Homo sapiens: one gene and its partners. The protein of the gene in region 5 purifies or fractionates together with the protein of the main gene of each other region. This does not show direct contact. Each region holds a gene or a part of one and is shown on either strand. Other genes may lie near its edges. The genes, in order: PPA1, CGN, RIMS1, PPA2 and NAV1.

Region 1 (4,081 bases), on a different chromosome or scaffold from region 5:
AATATTGGAATCATTAGAATGCATAAAAACAGTAATAGTTTTTATAGCAACTCTGTTGCTATAAAATTCATTGAATTTCTCATATCAGTTGCCCTGAAAAATCCTAAATATCACTGTTGTTCACCTAGTAGCAACTCTTTGAATTGTAGCCAGATGTCTAGAAGAAGGTTGTTCTTTAGTAGTAATTCCTGCTAAAGTATGTGGAACACCCCCTCCTTACAAGTACAGAGCTGGGCAGGATGGCTTGCACCTGTAGTCCCAGCTACTAGGGATGCATAGGCAGGAGGATCACTTGAGGCTAGGAATTAGAGACCAGCCTGCTCAACATAGTGTGACTTCATCTCCAAAAACATAATTAAAAAACAATTAGCCAGGTGTGGTGGTGCACACCTGTAGGCCCAGCTACTTAGGAGGCTGAGGCAGGAGGATTGCTTGAGACCAGGAGTTGGAGGCTGCAGTGAGCTATGATTGCGTCACTGTACTCCAGTCTGGATGACAGAGTGAGACCCCGTCTCTCTCTCTCTCTCTCTTTAAAAAAATGTTTTTTAAGAGACAGGGTCTTGCTATGTTGGTCAGGTTGGTCTTGAACTCTTGGCCTCAAGCGGTCCTCCTGCCTCTGCCTCCCAAAGTGCTAGGATTATAGACGTTAGTCGCCACGCCTGGCTGAGACAAGTATTACTACAGCATCTACATGCATTTGAAAGTGTGCTAGTATTCCATGCATAAAAAATGATGAGTTCATGTCCTTTGTAGGGACATGGATGAAGCTGGAAACCATCATTCTCAGCAAACTGTTGCAAGGACAAAAAACCAAACACCGCATTTCTCACTCATAGGTGGGAATTGAACAATGAGAACACGTGGACACAGGAAGGGGAACATCACACACCGGGGCCTGTTGTGGGGTGGGGGGAGGGGGAAAGGATAGTATTAGGAGATATACCTAATGCTAAATGATGAGTTAATGGGTGCAGCACACCAACATGCAACATGGCACATGTATACATATGTAACAAACCTGCACTTTGTGCACATATACCCTAAAACTTAAAGTATAATAATAAAAAAAAAGTGTGCTAAACATTGATTTTACAGATGAGTCACTCACCCCAAGCTGTAGCCTGAGGCCTACAAACTGGAAGTACCTGATTTAGCAGGCGAGAATTCTACCCCTGAACCACCAATGCTACCAGCAGGAAGTACCTGATTTGGAAATCCAACTCTTTGGGAGTTAAAAGAACTTTTATTTTGTTCATTGCTAGTCTTCGGAGCCTAGAAAAGTGCCTGGCACATCCTGGTGGTTCACAACAAATATTTGTTGAAAAAAATCAATGAATTGACTCTGGCTTTTGCAGGTACTCCTTGTTGTTTTTCGCCCAGCTAATTTCTTTTTTTTTTTTTTTTTTTTTTTTGAGACGGAGTCTTGCTCTGTGGCCCAGGCTGGAGTGCAGTGGTGTGATCTCAGTTCACTGCAACCTCCGCCTCCCAGGTTCACGCCATTCTCCTGCCTCAGCCTCCCGAGTAGCTGGGACTACAGGCACCTGCCACCACGCCCAGCTAATTTTTTTGTATTTTTAGTAGACACGGTTTTTCACTGTGTTAGCCAGGATGGTCTCGATCTCCTGACCTCATAATCCGCCCACCTCGGCCTCCCAAAGTGCTATGATTACAGGTGTGAGCCACCACCCCCCGGCCTCACCCAGCTAATTTCTAAAAAGCACCAGACCTTCAAGCTTTTGTTCGCAGCAGAATTCTCTTACCATTTTCTGAAGGATGTTTTCTTCCTTGTTATTTTTTTCCTTCCCATTAATTATGTAGATTTATGTTATTAGGTAATACTGTTTTGAGGATCTATACATATTTGTCATTTACTGCTATTAAAGTGTTCAATATAGTTTCTAAACTTTGAATTAGTTATTTTAGCTCTATCTGCTATATCTTTCTTGAAGCAATGTATTCATTTGGTGGTGTTTTAACGAAATTAACAGCTAATCTTGGCGAGCTCTTCAGTTGATCTTTCATGTCGTAACAGCTCCATCTTGTGAATCTTTAGGGTACTGCTGCTGGAAACCGAAAGCCCTGACTTGTTCTTTTCACAGACCTACAGATCTCTCGTTTTTACACCTGAGAAGTGGACAAAATACTTGAAAACCTAGTGGACAAGGTGAAATTTAGTCAAAGATTGGTTCTGAGGTTTTCTACCCAGGATTAATAATTAGTGTTACATTTTCTAAACCATCTGGTTATTTTAGAGGGAAACAGGGATAGAGCAGTTTCTTCAGTCCTAGATTTAAGTAATATCTCCATTCTTTTGGTTTTTATGTTGTATTGGGTAAGTGAGGTATCAGGAGGCTTGGAGCAGAAACCTATGGATGCTTTAGTCTCCCATGGTTTCAGCAGGAACTTAAAATGACAGAAGTTCTACACTTTTGAATCAAAATCAGTGTAGTTTTTCTGCTTGGTAGCAGCAGGTAATTATTGACTTGAAACCTTTGACTTATTCCCTTGTGGCTTATCAGTTCCCGTTTTTTGATGGAAAGTAGCAAAGAAGTAATTCTAAAGAGTGGTGTAACCAAGTGATTTTCATTTTAAGTTAAGTTCTTAAAATGTACTTTACCAGTCTGGGGTAACATGGCAAAGCTCCATCTCTACAAAAAAAAAAAAAAAAAAATATATATATATATATATAAATTATATATATATATAATTTATATATATATTATATATATAAATTATATATATGTTATATATATAAATTATATATATAGTATATATATAAAAATTATATATATTATATATAAATTATATATATAGTATATATAAAAATTATATATATTATATATAAATTATATATATAGTATATATAAAGTATATATTATATATATAAGAATTATATATATAATATATATAAAAATTATATATATAATATATATAAAAATTATATATATTATATATATATAAATTATATATATTATATATATATAAATTATATATATTATATATATATAAATTATATATATTATATATATAAATTATATATATTATATATATATAAATTATATATATTATATATATATAAATTATATATAATATATATATAAATTATATATATTATATATATATAAATTATATATAATATATATATAAATTATATATAATATATAATTATATATATTATATATATAATTATATATATATTATACATAAAAATTATATATAATACATATATAATTTATATATATAAAATTATATAATATATATAAAAATTATATATATATGCACATACACGCACACACACACACATATATACATATACACACACACACAATTAGCTGGATGTGGTGGCATGCATCTGTAGCTCCAGCTACTCAGGAGGCTGAGATGGGAAGATTGCTTGAGCCAGGGTGGTTGAGGCTTCAGTGAGTCAAGCTCATACCACTGCACTCCAGCCTAGGTGGCAGAGTGAGACCTTGTCTCAAAAAAAAAAAAAAAAAGTACTTTTTATAAGCATAATTGCAGGCCAGGTGCGGTGGCTTACACCTGTAATCCCAGCACTTTGGGAGGCTGAGGCGGGTGGATCACCTGAGGTCAGGAGTTTGAGACCAGCCTGGCCAACATGGCGAAACTCCATCTCTACTAAAAATACAAAAATTAGCCAGGTGTAGTGGCACGCCCCTGTGTTATCCCAGCTACTCAGGAGGCTGAGACAGTAGAATCACTTGAACTCAGGAGGCAGAGGTTGCAGTGAGCCAAGATTGTGCCACTGCACTCCAGCCTGGGTGACAGAAAACAGTAATTGCAGATTTAGCTTCATCTGTGCCCTTTGTAGAGGCTAAAAACTGAAAAACTGCAGTTAAAGTTCTATTCCGTGAAAAAAAATAGTATTCTGAATAATTAAAGCTCAAGTTTAATTAAATAACCTATGGCATATTTAACTCCAGTGTGCAAAATGGGTTGGCAAAGTATGGTTTGTTTTTTCATTGTGTTTTTAAACTGCACATCTGGGAATTTACTCCCTGAATATATCATCTATTTTATAGTAGTCAGTTTAAGGCTATAAGCCAATTACAGTAGAACTATC
Region 2 (4,081 bases), about 50 Mb from region 5:
AAAGTAAGCCTTAAATGACCATTTCAGCAAACCCAAGGTGCCAATGATTATACGGCGTACCACTAAGAAAAATATGCCAATTAAACTATAACATACCATAAGGTATAAGACACAACTCTATTTCAGAAATGATAAAATGTGCATTTTTCATTGACAAATGATAAGATGTGCATTTTTCATTGACAAATGATAAGATGTGCATTTTTCATTGACAAATGATAAGATGTGCATTTTTCATTGACAAATGATAAAATGTGCACTTTAGAATTGATGTAACATATTACGTGTTTGCTCTTGCTTTACAAAAAGATTGGGAGGAGAACCTTAGCAGCAAAAGCAATTTATTTCCTTTTCTTTTTTCTTTCTTTTCTCCTTCCCCTCACCCAAATTTAAAATTCTACCAATGAAGATTTTTTTTTTTGACAGGCTCTTGCTGTAGCGCAGTGGGGCAGTCACAGCTCACTGCAGCCTCAACCTCCTGGGCTCAAGCAATCCTACGTCAGCCTTCCGAGTAGCTGGGAATACAGATGTCTGGGTTCAAATCCTGGCTCTACCACTAATTAGCAACCATAGGCAAGTTACTTATCTTCTCTGGGTCTCAATTCCCCATCTATAAAGAGAAACTGAGGAACAAGCCACCACAGCAGGCTAATTTTATTTTTAAGTAGAGACAGAGTCTTATTATGTTGCCCAAGCTGGCCATTGAAGATTCTTGTATTTAGGTTTTGTAGACTCCCAAGGGAGAATCCCAGGAGATGTTCTCCAAGAATGAAGACCATAAAGGAATAGGATGTAAGGGAAAGAGCAAAAACATGGAGGGGAGGTAGGAAGGATGCCCCTTCCAGAAGATTTGGTCTTGGTCTTCCTAACAATGAACTTGAGGAAAGCAAACATCACACATTCTTTTTTTTTTTTTCTTAAGACAGAGTCTTGCTCTGTCACCCAGGCTGAAGTGCAGTGGCATGATCTCGCCTCACTGCAACCTCCACCTTCCGGGTGCAAGTGACTCTCCTGCATCACCCTCCTGAGTAGCTGGGACTACAGGCATGAGCCACCAAGCCCGGCTAATTTTTTGTATTTTTAGTAGAGACAGAGTTTTGCTATGTTGGCCAGGCTGGTCTCAAACTCCTGACCTCGGGTATCTGCCTACCTCAGCCTCTCAAAGTGCTGGAATTACAGGAGTGAGTCACCGCACCTGGCCATAATCATCACACATTCTGACTAACCCCTCTCCCCCAAGCCCCTGTCCTCTCAGGCCAGCTTCTGGATGAGCTGGGCCTCTTCCTAAAGGCCCAGAATACCCCATGCCCCACCTCCTTGTTCAGTCGGTCCACAGTCCTGTCCAGCAAACGCTTCTGCTCCTCCAGCTCAGCCTTGCCTCGCCGGAGCACCTCCCGCTGCTTCCCTTCCTCCTCCAGGGCCCGGTTCAGTGTCTGCTGCTCCTGCCCCAGGCGGGCCAGCCCCCGCTGAGCCTCCTCTAGGCGTGCCTCCAGTGCCCGCTTGGCTGCTGCCAGACTCCCCTCCTCTTCCTGGGACGCATTCAGGGCCTCCTCCAGCTGCTGTTTCTCTGCCTGGGAGGTAGGGAAGCAGGGTTGGACTGAGAAAAGGTAAAACTTGGGTTCAAGTCATTTGGAGGTGGGTAGCTGGGCAGGAGAAAGGAGGTATTTATGAAAATGATGTGCAATGAAAACAGGCTCCTAGCAAAGAAATCAGGACACATAGAGCAAGCAAAGGGTGAGAAATAAGAAACAAAACTACCAGTGCAAAGACTGAACATTGGCGCCAAAGTATACACCAGGAAATAAACCCAAGGTTAACAGAGCAGGTTTGGGGAGGCAAAACAGATGCACACTAAGGGCAAAGTGAAACTGATGGCTAACTACTTAGCATAGGAGTATTTCACCAGGGCTGAGCAGAGAGGGCTGGGAGGGCAGAACCACTGACCTCCAGCCGCTGCAGCTTGTCCCGTAGTCGTGCCTCCACCGCTTCCCCACCATCCACCAGACCTCGAGTCTCCTTCAGCTGCTGCTCCAAACCCAGGATGCGCCGGCGGAATTCGTCATTTTCCTCCTGGGTCTCCCGAAGCGTCGTCTCCACTGCGGCCCGCCGCTGCCCCAGCACTGTTGCCTCTGCCTCGGCCACCATCTTAGCCTAAGGACGGTTCAGGGGGTGGCAGCTCAGACCCCAGGGCGTGGCAGCTCAGACCCCAGGGCTTGGGGCCATTGACCACACCCAGGAAAGCCATCCCAAAGACAGCCCATAAGAATGAGGCTTAAAGAGAGCAGCTGCCACCAGCCAGACGCTTCTCTGAGAATCCCACCCCTACACAGATACAGGTATCCTCCCCCTGCCAAATCCTGGCTTCTTTGAACCACATGCCTAGGACCCAGGAGCTGGTCAGTACATACCCATGACAGGTAACTTTCCACACCCTCTGGCTCCTCAGCCCTCCAGACACCCTCAGCCTCCACCTCCTAAGCCCTGTGCCCACTCCCCTTGCCTTGGAAGCCTCTTCACAGTCCTGTCGCAGTTGCTGGAGGGTCTTTTGTAGCTGGAGGTTCTGTTCTTCCAGCTCCCGACCTCGATCAGCCTCGACCCTCAGGACCGCCAGCTGCTTCTCCAACTCCCGGTCCCGGTGTCGCCCAGCCACCTCCTGGCTCTGCCGTTCTGCCTGCAGTTCCTTAAGCTCCTCCTGTGTCCGGAGCAGCTCCTGGAAGGAAACGGGAATGGTGATGGGGCACCCAGAGCCAGACTAAGATACCTGAATGTGGAGAAGCTGAAACTCTCATACACTGCCAAGGGAATAAAAACTGATGTGGCCACTTTGGAAAGTAGTTTGGCAGTTTCTCAAAAAGTTAAACACAGATTTACCATTTATATCACCAGCAATTCCACTCTTAGGTAACCCAAGAGAACCGAAAATATGTGTTCACAAAAAAACTTATACGCGAATGTTCATAGTAGCATTATTCATTATAGCCCAGATGGATACACAACCCAGATGTCCACGAATTGATGACTGGACTAAACACGGTATACCCACAGAGTGGAATGTTATTCAGCCATAAAAAGGAATGAAGTACTCATACTTGCTACCACATGGACAAACCTTGAAAACACTATGCTAGGTGAAAGAAGCCAGACCCTTAAGGCCCATATATTATAGGATTCAATTATATTAAATATCCAGAATAGGTAAATCCAGAGACAAAAAGTAGATTAGTGGTTGCCATTGGGTGGGGGGAATTATTGCTAATGGGTTTGGCGCCTTTGAGGGGGTAATGAAAATGTTCTGTAATTAAATAGTGATGATGGTTGTACAACTTTGTTAATATAATAAAAACCACTGGGGGCCAGGCGCCAGTGGCTCATGCCTGCAGTTTGGGAGGCTGAGGCGGGTGGATCACCTGAGGTCAGGAGTTCAAAACCAGCCTGGACAACATGGTGAAACCCTGTCTCTACCAAAAATACAAAAATTAGCCGGGCGTGGTGGTGTGTGCCTGTAATCCCAGCTGCTTGGGAAGCTGAGGCAGGAGAATGGCTTGAACCAGAAGGCAGAGGTTGCAGTGAGCCGAGATTGTGCCACTGCACTCCAGCTTGGGTAGCAGAGTAAGACTCCATCTCAAAAAGAAAAAAAAAACCCATTGGATTGTACACAAAGATGACTTTTATAGCATGTAAAATATAACTCCATAAAAAAAAAAATACCATGAAGGGAGAGTACATGAAGGTATGGCTAGTAAGGCTGGTTGTTTAAAAAAAATACAGTGTGAGGCTGGGTGCGGTGGCTCACGCCTGTAATCCCGGCACTTTGGGAGGCCAAGGAGGGCGGATCACAAGGTCAGGAGATCAAGACCAACCTGGTTAACACGGTGAAACCATGTTTCACGGTGAAACACTGAGTACGTGTATTTTTTTTGTAAAAATACAAAAAAAATTAGCCGGGCGTGGTGGTGGGCGCCTGTAGTCCCAGCAACTCGGGAGGCTGAGGCAGGAGAACGGCGTGAACCCAGGAGGCGGAGCTTGCAGTGAGCCGAGATCACGCCACTGCATTCCACCCTGGGTGACAGAGTGAGACTCC
Region 3 (4,081 bases), on a different chromosome or scaffold from region 5:
AGGTGTGAACATTGTCAAGATAATCCATCCAAGCATCAGATTTTATATGTAAAGTGGAATTTATAATGGCAGTCCTTCTAATCTGTGAAGCTTTAAAATGATAGTGGAGTCATCATATCCTCCAAATTGCTGTTTCCAAGAAAGGTGCCATTATTATGCTTATTTGTTAAAACTGTAGAACACCAAGATTATATTTTCCAGTAGTCTTTGAAGGTACTAGGGGGCTTGGGAAGATGAGCTCTTGGAGAAGAGCCCACCTATCCTTTCATGCTAGCAATGCAGTGTTGCCAGGGTTGCAGCTCCCAGTGTGAGAATTTGACAAGGAGTTAAAAGGTAAAATGAGTTCAGGGCTTGGTCTGAGACTATATTTACCTTCTTTCTTTTCTTTTTTTTTTTCCCCTCTCATTAAATAGCTCGTACATGTTTTTAGCACAAAAAGCAATGTGGGCAAAGTGATAAAGTTTGAAAGATCTAAAAGGCAATCCTAATTCAAAAATGAGAAGAGAAATTAGCTTGGGGTAATTTCCTCATCTTTTACAGAAAAAAATTTGGAGAAATACAGTAATAATTTTAGTGTCACTGGGTTTAATAAATTCTTCATTTTCAGAATTAGCTGAATAAGGGGTCATGTATATTTGTCAGGTAGTTTTCTTTCATGTCAGTTTACCATTGAGTGATGTAATAAATTGCATGTGTTTAAGAACTTTTTAAGATTCTTTATTGGATGCCTTAGGTTTTCTGTATTTATATTCTCACATTCTTACATCGAGTTTATATACACTTATTTTGACTAGATTACTTTTCTGTGGACAGCAAGAGGGGGTTATTCTGCAGAATTGATTTTAGATGTTTCTGCTTCTGTTGCAATATTGTGAAAACTTCCTGTTCATACGAATGCTTACTTAAAGGCAAAATAGAGCTGTTTAAAAGGAAGGTGACTGTACATGTTGATTTTCCTTTATCTGTTTATACCAATTTCCTGCTATTATTATGTATGGTAACCCCTTCTCTCAATTTTGAGTTTCAACCCGGATGACAAATTATATTGTCTTCCTCTTTTTAAATCTTGCTTTCTCTTCCCCAAATTCTTCATTTATAACTTCAGAAAATCAAGCAATTAACAGTGTTAAAATATATCTCAACAATAAGTAATGCAAGCAAGTGGTAGATATAAAATCTTGATCATTGTTTGGTAAATGGAGAACACTTTTTCTGAGAATGAGGTATTATCAGCCAGGCGTGGTGGCTCACTCCCGTAATCCCAACACTTTGGGAGGCCAAAGCGGGTGGATCACTTGAGCTCAGGAGTTTGAGACCAGCCTGGCCAACATGGTAAAACCCCGTCTCTACTAAAAATACAAAAAATTAACCTGGTATGGTGGAGTGCACCTGTAATCCCAGGTACCCAGGAGGCTGAAGCAGAAGAATCGCTTGAAACCAGGAGGCAGAGGCTGCAATGAGCTGAGATCCTGCCACTGCAGTCCAGCCTGGGCAACAGAGTGAGACTCTGTCTGAAAAAAAAAAGGAAATAAGGTATTCTCTTTTATGGAATCTCAACAGAATGATGCTTTTTATGGCAAAGCTGAATTTAAAATTTCAAAACATTTTTCAAATAATAGTAGTTATGAATTGCGACTTCATACAGGACTGTCTTTATGAGAATTCTCCTTTGAGCCTTGCAAAGAGCAGCCTGCAGTTTACCAAAGACATCTTTAATGTGTGAGAATTTATTTAAATAGATTTTGGGATGTAATATTTTGATATTCCTCTGAGTTTAGATGGCAAAATGAGGTAATGTTACAGAAAGTAATTGCATGTTATTTGTAATATTTTGATAATTCCTCTGATGTTTAGATAGTAAAATAAGGTAATGTTATAGAAAGTAATTTCATGCAATATGTAAGTAATCAATGCACTTAATTATAATATTAGCTATTTTAAAGCATAATGAATGAAAGATATTTTGTGTAATATAGAAAATAATACCATGCTAATGATTTATACATTATTTAGTATTTGTTTGTATTACCCATCATTATGCCAGGTAATTTAATTATCATCTGGAAGATGATAGTATATTTACATAGAGAAGGTATGTAAATTGAAAACCAATTAAGATATCTGTACTGTCATATAAAAGTCTTACACTACTTAGCTTCTTTTAATGGACTCTCATGCATAATATACACACTCACAAGTGGAAACTAATGTAGTAATCTTGATGGAGTTTTCTTGCTGTATTTGCTGGACTTTACATCGTCCATTTGATTAGTTCACAATTTACATACCTACATATGGCTTTCTGTACTTAAAGCAGTATTGCTTAATATTTGAAGACTATTTTTAATCTCAAGAATATATTTTAAAGTTGTAAGTTATTGGTGCACAAGCATTGTGTGCCATATTATTGTTTTTGTTGTTTAAACACAGCTTTTAACCAATGTAACAAGAAACTCTTTGAGGCCGGGTGCGGTGGCTCACGCCTGCAATCCCAGCACTTTGGGAGGCTGAGAAGGGCGTATCACCTGAGGTCAGGAGTTTGAGACCAGACTGGCCAATATGGCGAAACCCCATCTCTACTAAAAATAAAAAAATTAGCCGGCGTGGTGATGCATGCCTGTAATCCCAGCTACTTGGGAGGCTGAGGCAGGAGAATTTCTTGAACCCGGGAGGCGGAGGTTGCAGTAAGCTGAGATTGTGCCTCTGCACTCCAGCCTGGGTGATAGAGCAAGACTCCCTCTCAAAAAAAAAAAAAAAAAAAAAAAAGAAGGAAAGAAAGAAACTCTTTGATAGGATGTCTAGCTGCTAGCTGTTTTGTTTTCAATTTATGTGGTTTTTATTCTGGAAAAAATAGGCAGATTGTATATGAAGTACCTAGGGTATGTAAAAATCAATGTATTGGGTTTCTTTAACTATATGGTAGTATATATCCACATTTAGAGGTTCTATCCAGGTCAGAAAGATTACTTAGCGTATTGGTAGAAAGAGATGAAAACAAAAGTAAAGTAACCAAATGGCTTTTCCTTTTATATTTCACACAGCTTAGCAGATTTATCTTCCTTGGCTATCTCTGTATTGCAATATATTGGAGCTTAAGCCTTCTTTCCTAACCCCTTTGTTTCTGGGAAAAAATGAAGACATTTTACATCCTAGTATCTGGAATAAAGGGATATTGAAATGAACAGTCTCATTTATTTTAGATATTGAAATTTTAGTAAGATCCAAAATCCTAAAGAGATTCTAATTTTATATTATTCATGATTGTGACAGTTTTCATAAAAGTGTAATTTTGAAAAATAAAATACAGTAAAGTCTTCTTATATTGAGAATGGATATTTCAATTTACAGCTGTCTGCATACCCTAGGTCAAATCTAGCCACCTAATATATAGCAACCTGAAGTAAAAACTTGATGCTAGTCTGAAAAAGATATTATGGTCTAAGTATCATGCCAGACACAAGCATTAGAAAGGGATTTTATGGTATTTAGAGCTCCAAAAGCCTAAGCTTTAACAGTCACTATTGGGTACAACTATGATGGATAATCAGTCCAGGGGCTATCTAGTCCCTGACTTCCATAAATGCAGCATAGTTAAAGGCTATAGGAGGTCCACATGCAATAGAAGAGAAATAAACATGGTACCAGGCCACAAGAAGCAGATACTTTTGCTAGTAAGGTTGTGCAAATTAAAAAAAATATGACATACGCACTTTGGGAAAAGACTAAATACTCAAGAACACAAAATAGTGCAAATTGAGTGGTGGTTATGATAAGAGGTGAAGAATCTTTTGAAGCTCCCTCTTGCCCTTGCTTCTATAATTCCATATCCTTTTGATTTGCCTTCAATGTTTCTAAATGCTTCTATTTTATCTTCTCTTGAATCTCAGATGTTGGCGTTCTCATGGGGTCCTATTCTCCATATTCTCCCATTTTATATGCAGTTCCTTGTGTATCTCCGTCAATGGCTCCAACCATGTATATGTCAATGATCCCTAGATCTATATTACTGCATTAGAATTTACTACTAAATTCTGGATTCATGTCCTTAGCCACCTGTTAAATTTCTCTACCTGAGTGTCCT
Region 4 (4,754 bases), on a different chromosome or scaffold from region 5:
AACAGGGTGTGGCTCTGCTGCAGAAGCTGGAGTGCAATGGCATGATTTTGGCTTCACTGCAACCTCCGCCTCTTAGGCTCAAACCATCCTCCTATCTCAGCCTCCCAAGTGGCTGGAACTACAGGCGTGTGCCACCCCGCCTGGCCGATTTTTGTACTTTTTATGGAGATGGGTTTTACCATGTTGCCCAGACTGCTGGTCTCAAACTCCTGGGATCAAGTGATCCTCCCACCTTGGCCTCCCAAAGTGCTAGAATTACAAGCATGAGCCACCACGCCCAGCCTGGATACTTTAAGTATCCACAGATCATTAGAAATTAGCCTACAACCCTGCCTCCATAGGAATTTGTCTTATTTAAATATCTAATCTTCAAAAGTTAATAGAAAAATTAAGCTTTTTTTCAACATAAACAAAAAAATTATACAACTCTGTGATATATGCACAGAAGAGATTTTCTCTCCTTTTTATGGGAGCATTTGCCTTATAGTTATGCCTATTCAAGTTGACACATTACAAAGGTACCACTGTTGACAAAAACATTTTAGGATCTATAATCTTAGTAGAGTGTCTCTAAGTAGCTAGTCACAATATCTCCTAGGAATCCTTTCTGGAACTTGGGTAGACCAGTATCTCAATTTTAATGATCACACGATAATTGGAGATGCTGAAAGAACCTGGGTGCCCAGTAGGAAAGTAGCCTAGATGATGATAGTCCCAAAGAAGATGGACTAGAAAAAAATAAAATGACACGTGGCAGACTACTGGTTGTTCTACAATATCCATTCTCCTGGATACTGGCCCAAACCATCCTCCTATCTCAGCCTCCCAAGTAGCTGGAACTACAGGCGTGTGTGCCACCCCGCCTGGCCGATGCGCGGTGGCTCACGCCTGTAATCCCAGGACTTTGGGAGGCCAACGCAGGCGGATCAATGGAGGTCGGGAGTTCGAGACCAGTCTGACCAACATGGGGAAACTGTCTCTACTAAAAATACAAAAATTAGCTAGGCGTCGTGACGCATGCCTGTAATCCCAGTTACTCAGGAGGCTAAGGCAGGAGAATAGCTTGAACCCAGGAGGCGGAGGTTGCAGTGAGCCGAGATTGTACCATTGCATTCCAGCCCAGGCAACAGTGTGAGACTCCGTCTCAAAAACAAAACAACAACAAAAAATAATAAAATAAAAGAAAGAATAAATAATCTCTACTGGGTTAGGAAATGGCCTTATGGAGAAGATGGCATTTGAGTAAGCTACTTAGGGTTTTTTGCTCTGTAAGTCGGTGTCAACGTCCCGTTTTCACGTGGTGGCCTGATCATTTTGTCTTATAGTGATGTCTTTGCGTGCATGTGCGCTCATCTCCTATATTGGACAGGGTCTAGAGCAGTTCCTGGCACAGAGTAATCACTCAATATTACATCACTATACTAAAAAATCATGATAGTAATTCTTGACGGGATAAATGAAGGCATGAATAAATGTATGAATTAACGAGTGGCAGTGAGCTCTTCAGGGGTGGTGGGTCTTGTCTCACTCGTCTTTGAGCTGCGGCCTCGCTGAGGGCATAGTGCGCACAACTGGCTGGTGTTCCAGATTCCACTGGCAGGGACCAGGATCGCAGCCCGAGCGCCGGGGCGGGAGGGATGACTCCGGACGGTAGGGGGCACCGGCGTGCGGCCCGGCCGAGCCCCCAGGTAGCTCCGCGCGCACAGCAGGACCGTCATTGACGCCATGAGCGCGCTGCTGCGGCTGCTGCGCACGGGTGCCCCAGCCGCTGCGTGCCTGCGGTTGGGGACCAGTGCAGGGACCGGGTCGCGCCGTGCTATGGCCCTGTACCACACTGAGGAGCGCGGCCAGCCCTGCTCGCAGAATTACCGCCTCTTCTTTAGTAAGTAGCTCCCGGAGGTTCGCCGAGCGGCGCACCGGAGAAACCTGGGTGGGGGATGGAATGGGGGACACTTGGGACGCCCCGCGCGGTCTCCCTTCTCTCTTTTTGGGGCCCTCAGCGGTAGCCGCGCGGTCCAGGCCACCTTACTTCCCGCGGGAGCGCGCACCGAGTCACGAGAACTGCCAGCGAGGAGGCGGCGGATCAAGACCCCAAAGCGGAGAGCAGAGGCGCAGGGCTGCCGGCTGGGGGGTAGATAGCGCCCTGTGCCCTGCCAGCCGCCCTCCCCGAGGGGTAGGCAGAGTGCAAGCGGCCACCCCGCGGCGGCCTGCAGCCATTAGCCGGCCCGGCCGCCGTTCCCGGTTCACACAACTCAGTGAGGAAGGGAAGGCAGAGCCCGCCCACACGCCGGCCTTCCTAGAGGCGTAAGAAACCTCCTACTGCGGGAGCTCCCTGACGTCGGAGAGGCAGGCGGAACTTTGCGGATGCCTAATCCAGCGCGTCTTCTTTTTTTGGAGGGACTCTGATGAAGGTTCTTTCCCCAGAAGCTTGACTTGGTACGCACAAGTTTACACCCTGAGTGTGATCCACCATCCAAAGCCTCGTTGGTTCCGGAGCAGCCCCTTTTCCTCCCCAAGCTGAACAAGCCCAGAAGGCTAAGCGACTTCGGGGGGGTCCCTGAGTTGCCGAGCTCAGAGAAAGGACCCAGGTCTTCGTGACTCATTGTTCCGTGTACCCCATTGTTTCACTGTGTACGTTAACCGTAACAGAAAATAGCGATGTCGGTCGCTTGCCTTCACTCCCCACTGACTGCAGAGCCTTGGAGTGGTAGTATCAAAGTGGGCCTTGCATTATCGCTCCCCTTTTCGGAGCACTGGCTCTGGAGGCTTTCAGTTCTAAGCAGGCCCTCGAGTTCTTCACGTCTTAACTCTGTGACCCCGGACGAGTTTAAGTTGCTAAGCCTTGTTTTTTCTCATCCGTAAAATAGGGCTGCAAGTATTACATGACATTATATATGTAAACTGATTAGTCACAGGGCCTAAAATATAAATTACTATTGTTAATACCGATAATCATTATAGATATTTGTAATTTATGAGAGATTTGCAGTTATGCTACATGAGTTTAGGGTCGAGGATTATTTTGTGGGAAAGAAGAGTTTGCCTAAAGTCGTGTGATTATAATGCAACTAGTACTAGAATTTCTATTTTCTTCAAAATTGGTTGCAGTTTTCACCCTATGCCACATATTTTCTTCTATCTTTGGTTAAGACTGATCAGGTGAACAGGAAGTCTCAAATTTCTGAATGGATTATGTTCTAAAAGGTTACCATGTGATGATTAATGGGAATAGTCAGAAAAAATTATGAAGTGGCAGTTCGCTTTTTAAGCAGATTGAAAAAAGGCCTGTCTACTGCAAGTATTCTAGATTTGCAATAAGTACGGTAATTAATAGATACCCAAATAATAAATATTTATGAAGTGTGCTAGACACTGTTAGGCATAGTACAGAGATTCACAATATTACTATAATTATGGAAAAAGTAAATACACTGGTTGAGCAAAAACAGGCTTGAGAAGCCAGGAGCGCACAGAGTAGTTGACCCAGTACCGGATTTGGAATGGGGAGTCCTAGGCCATAATCTTGGCTCTGCCGTTAACTCGCTGTGTGCTGTTGGGTGGGTGGTTACTTCAGTTCTTTCTCACAGAGCCAGTTTCTTCAGCTGTAAAATGAAGCTTTTGACCTTGAAACGATGATCCTCAAGGTCCTTCTCAGCACTGGTATTCCCTGAAGGCATTGGATGAATAACGGAGATTCTAACAGTCTCTGTTAAGACAGGATGTCGAATGGGGGCATTTTTGGGAGTATGTTGGCCTCTTATTGTTGGTTTGTTTCTTTAGCTGCAAATGTACTTAGGACTCATGATTTTTCTGTAACTAGAGTGCCACAAATAAAATACGTTTTTCATTCAGTTGGATAAACAGGGCAGGAAAGAAGAAAACCCGATTTTACTAAGGTAAATGGGCAAAAACTGGAAGAAAGGGGAGTGTGGTTTTGGAGAGGGTCCCGATGGTAAGATCCTGATTGGAAGGTGTGTTGGTTAAACAATTTCTGAACTAACCGCCAGATGGCATCACTGGCCAGGACTGTTTACTACCTGCTAGAAGGGGTAGGGCAAAGTGAAACGAAGCCACTCTAGGGCGAATGGGGTAAGGGGAAAGCAACGAATAAATTGCCCTTTATAAAGATGATCACAGATTGGATATTTATTACTCAGTGTGTCTGTATGCAGTACTAGGGTGGACTAATGTCTCACTTCAAAAAAAATATGAGTGTAGTATACTTGGCCTAAAATTGTTACTCAGTGTTACTAAAGTGTAATCATTTTCCACATCTCCAAATATATTCCAAGTCTCTGAAATACTAGTGCATTGGGAGGTAGAACATTTTCGAGCTTCATGTCTGTAAATGGTTTCTCTTTACTGTCATTCAGTAAAATCAGAATAAATGATTGATGTAATACTTAAAAAAAAATTGGTGTTAAACTTTGTAGAAAGAGTGAGACAGGATGATTAGGGGAAAGGGTATCCTGATGGGAATCATCAGGCCTCCTTGGTGCCAGCCCTGACCCTGTTAGTATCTTGCTGTCACTTCACCTCCCTGCATCTCATTTTTTAAAACCATGGAATGAGGAGATTGGACCAGATGATCATTTTCCAGACTGCTTAGTTGAACACAAGCATCCCATGGTATATTATTAGGTTTTCGTTAAAACAGAGGGTTTCATGGTTTAATAAATTAGAACACTTCCCATTTTATTACTTTTTTGAAGAAGAATTTGCCTATTTAAGTTCTGGAAAATTCGGATGTAACT
Region 5 (3,252 bases):
AAGTCCAAAAGATGGTCCGGGCTGCCCCTCACAAAAGCTTCTGCATCCACGTGGTAAGCTCCCATGGATGACAGGGTTCTGTATGATGGAGACTATTATTGCTATTGCTGCTAATTCCATGAGCTGTGAAGATCCCTAACCAACTCAGCTGTAACATATGCAATTCTGTGGTGGGAAGAGGCTGTGTGTCCAAGGATGGTGCTGAAATCACTGCCTTAAGGTCTCTGCTGTGCAGAATGAGGAGGCCCCCGAGCTGGCTGTTCTAACTTAGAAGGAAGAGAAGACTGGATGGGCCTGCTTGGGATCTAGGCCTCTTCTAAACCCTATCCTAAGCTCCAGTTCCATGGCAAGGCTCAGACTTTTAATGCCATCTTAATCTGATGGTTGAGCGCTTCACTCTATTTTCTGGTGCTGCCCAGCCAGTGCCTTCTGCCATGGATGTTACTGGCTACTTGAGAAAAAGGAGAGGGGAGAACCCCTTCTTTCATTCCAACTGCCTCCGACCCCAAAGGGATTCTTGGCTCTCTGGTAACCATGGATACCACCATGAATTTTATTTGGATCCTCAGCAGGTTGATTCTGGAGGCCTCATGCTATGACTTTTTATTTCTCTTCCTGGGATCCACCACCCTCTACTCTCAGCTGACTGCTGCATTTAGGCCAGGTCTCCAATTGCTTTCCTCCAGAAAGTGTGTTCCCGTCTAGTGAGGTAGTATTGAAGCCTCGGCTTTCCCTCTGGAGCCTGGGACCCTGTTTACAGTTGCACATCTGGGCCCCTCACTGTGGGGATTGATCATTCTCATGAAGGAATCACAGTTATATGGCAACTGCAGAAGGCTGAGCCTCCTCATGGTGCTATAACCCCTTGGGACACTCATCCAGACTTCTCTGAAGCAGAAAACCTGAGCTCCCCACTCACTGCCCTAGAATTTATGGCAAGGAGCAAATCTACAGCATTCTCTCCCACCTACGTCCTGCTTCTTGGTTGAGACTACTGGGATCCTTCAGAAAAGAAACACTGGGTCCCATAGCTAAATTCTCAACCGCCAGGCACCTTCAGAAGAATCCAGCCTAATACTGGAATTTGTGCTATTATCTTCCTCTCCAGCCCCCCAACTCCATCCCTCACCACAGTTGTCTAGGAAATGACATGAATTCAATATCTAATGTCAACCAATGGGGAGAGCCACAACTCCAGGAGAGGTTCCTGAGCTGAGTCCCTTAATTTCTGGATGAAGAAGACCAACAAGTTTTGTCCAATGTATTTGTTTCTCAGACCTTGCCTAGGCACTAAAAATAAAATACTAGGTCATTGGAGGCTAATGTGGGACCTGATGTCTGCGTGTGTGTGTGTGTGTGTGTGTGTGTGTGTCTCCCTCTCTCACACACACAAGAGCAGTTTGCTGTTGCTGTTTCCTACCTTCTGAGGCTTCAAAGTATTTTTTAAAATCTATGCTTTGTGGCAGCTCTACGGTGCTTATCTCTGTCTTTGTGTCAATCCTTAAGTACCCATGTCTTTTTCATGTCTAACCATTGGGAAGGTAGAGGCTGGCAGGGAAGACAAATCTGCTACAAGTCCATGGGAAGACCCTACAATGAAATGTTCATTGGTTGGTATACTGTTTTAGTCTTGAATTGCCAACTTTCCAACTGATCTATCCATATTCCTTAAGTACTAAAGACAAAATAGAGGGCTTCTTTTTCTCTCTTAATGTCTTGCCTTCTGGTTTTCCTGGTTTGCAAGACTAAGTGTACCTAATCTCACCATCTCTTCACTTCTAGCTCTCTGAAACAAGGGTCACACTACTCAGAGGGATAACCCCTTACAGTGGTCTGAGGAGTAACTATTTCCTAAAGTATTCTAAAAGAGTAGGAAGAGAGAAATGGTAGCCTGCTGCTTCTCACAGACACCTCACATCCTCACTTGGGATGGCATCCACATAGAAACCCTGCATTTAGGTAAAATTTGCCTGACTGAAGGGGACTCAGTCCTCCAAATCAAGGTCAAGAAGATATCTGCATGAGACCTTAAGAACTCTTTATTGCCATTATTTGGAGAGGGCGGGGGAATTGTCCTAATCACACATTTAACACAGGGAATAAGTGCTGAAGTGACCCAGATCACCAAGCGCAGTTCCTCATCATACTTTATTTTTGCTTTCCTTATTCCTTGGCACTGACTAAGCTAAAGTTAAGAAGCCGACTTCATAAGCCAACCCCTGTGATGGGATGGAAAAATGGGCTTTTGCAGAGGGTTTATTAATAGAGATGGATATACTACTCACAAGTTCTGGCTCATGGCTCCACTGAGAAGGCCATAGTAATAAAATGATCTTATGAACACTGTTCCCCAAAGGCCAAAGCCTGAAGATATTGCCCCTTATAATCCAATCAGCCTTATATTTTAATAAGTCCTGAATCAACCTGACTACGGATATATGGGGCCACCAGGGTGCATGGGTGCATGTCTGCTCAGCCTAGCCCTGGAAGTGAGCACTGCCGGCCACAGATCCTGGGAAAGGTGGTAGTAACCCAGAAGATGTAGCCTTGAAGGGAGGATACCTATCAAAATGCCAAAGCTGCAGGGACACGAAGACGGTTGAAAATTCAACCTGTGTATACTAGATCCTTCCAGTTTGATGGTTTGGTCATTCTTCTTCATGATTATACCATGGAGAATTTTCTGTGACAAGGGTGGTCATGGAAGTAAGTGAGTGATCCCCTGGTTTCTCATTCCTTAAAGCAGTGGTTCGCAAAGTATGGCACAAGACCAGCAGCATCAGCAGCCTTTGGGAACTTGTTAGAAACGAAAATTCTCAATCCCATCCCAGATCTGCTGAATCAGAAACTCTAATGAGAGGACCCGGCAATCCACGTTTTAATAAGCCCTCCTGGTGATTCTGATGCACACTAAATTCAACTGTTTTAAAGGGAAAGCCCTTTATAGTATTGGAGTTCCCACACTGAGAGGCTTTGGGGCCCAAAATAAGAAGGTTCTAGGTTGTCATTCAGACTTTAACATTAATTTCAAAGTCACCTTTCTCATGCTTCCTTGTGTTTCTGTTTTTCCATTTATGATTTTAACAAAGAAAGGTATGTGTGCTTTTGGGTGGAAGTTAGGAGAATGTTTGTGTCTTTCCTAGTTGAATACAACCTTCAGAGAAAAACCTTATGCCTTGGAAATTACTACCTGGCACACAAAGGGGCTTCAACAAGGAAAAGCAGTTGGAGGTCTCTTCCAGATTGCTCTTC

The links.
Region 1: the proteins of NAV1 (region 5) and PPA1 fractionate together in Homo sapiens (co-fractionation; one large-scale study listed by BioGRID). This does not show direct contact.
Region 2: the proteins of NAV1 (region 5) and CGN purify together in Homo sapiens (affinity purification with mass spectrometry, with the first as the bait; one large-scale study listed by BioGRID). This does not show direct contact.
Region 3: the proteins of NAV1 (region 5) and RIMS1 purify together in Homo sapiens (co-immunoprecipitation; one large-scale study listed by IntAct). This does not show direct contact.
Region 4: the proteins of NAV1 (region 5) and PPA2 fractionate together in Homo sapiens (co-fractionation; one large-scale study listed by BioGRID). This does not show direct contact.

The regions. Positions count from the first base shown.
Region 1 is NC_000010.11:70,219,667-70,223,747, reverse strand, and holds part of PPA1 (inorganic pyrophosphatase), read left to right. Parts: intron 1-4,081.
Region 2 is NC_000001.11:151,527,979-151,532,059, reverse strand, and holds part of CGN (cingulin), read right to left. Parts: intron 2,711-4,081; coding exon 2,501-2,710; exon of another isoform or gene 2,496-2,500; intron 2,152-2,495; coding exon 1,945-2,151; intron 1,572-1,944; coding exon 1,314-1,571; intron 1-1,313. UniProt on the Homo sapiens protein: Probably plays a role in the formation and regulation of the tight junction (TJ) paracellular permeability barrier.
Region 3 is NC_000006.12:71,892,932-71,897,012, forward strand, and holds part of RIMS1 (regulating synaptic membrane exocytosis protein 1), read left to right. Parts: intron 1-4,081. UniProt on the Homo sapiens protein: Rab effector involved in exocytosis. May act as scaffold protein that regulates neurotransmitter release at the active zone.
Region 4 is NC_000004.12:105,471,022-105,475,775, reverse strand, and holds the start of PPA2 (inorganic pyrophosphatase 2, mitochondrial isoform 1 precursor), read left to right. Parts: upstream 1-1,713; 5' UTR 1,714-1,725; coding exon 1,726-1,882; intron 1,883-4,754.
Region 5 is NC_000001.11:201,822,022-201,825,273, forward strand, and holds part of NAV1 (neuron navigator 1), read left to right. Parts: 3' UTR 1-3,252. UniProt on the Homo sapiens protein: May be involved in neuronal migration.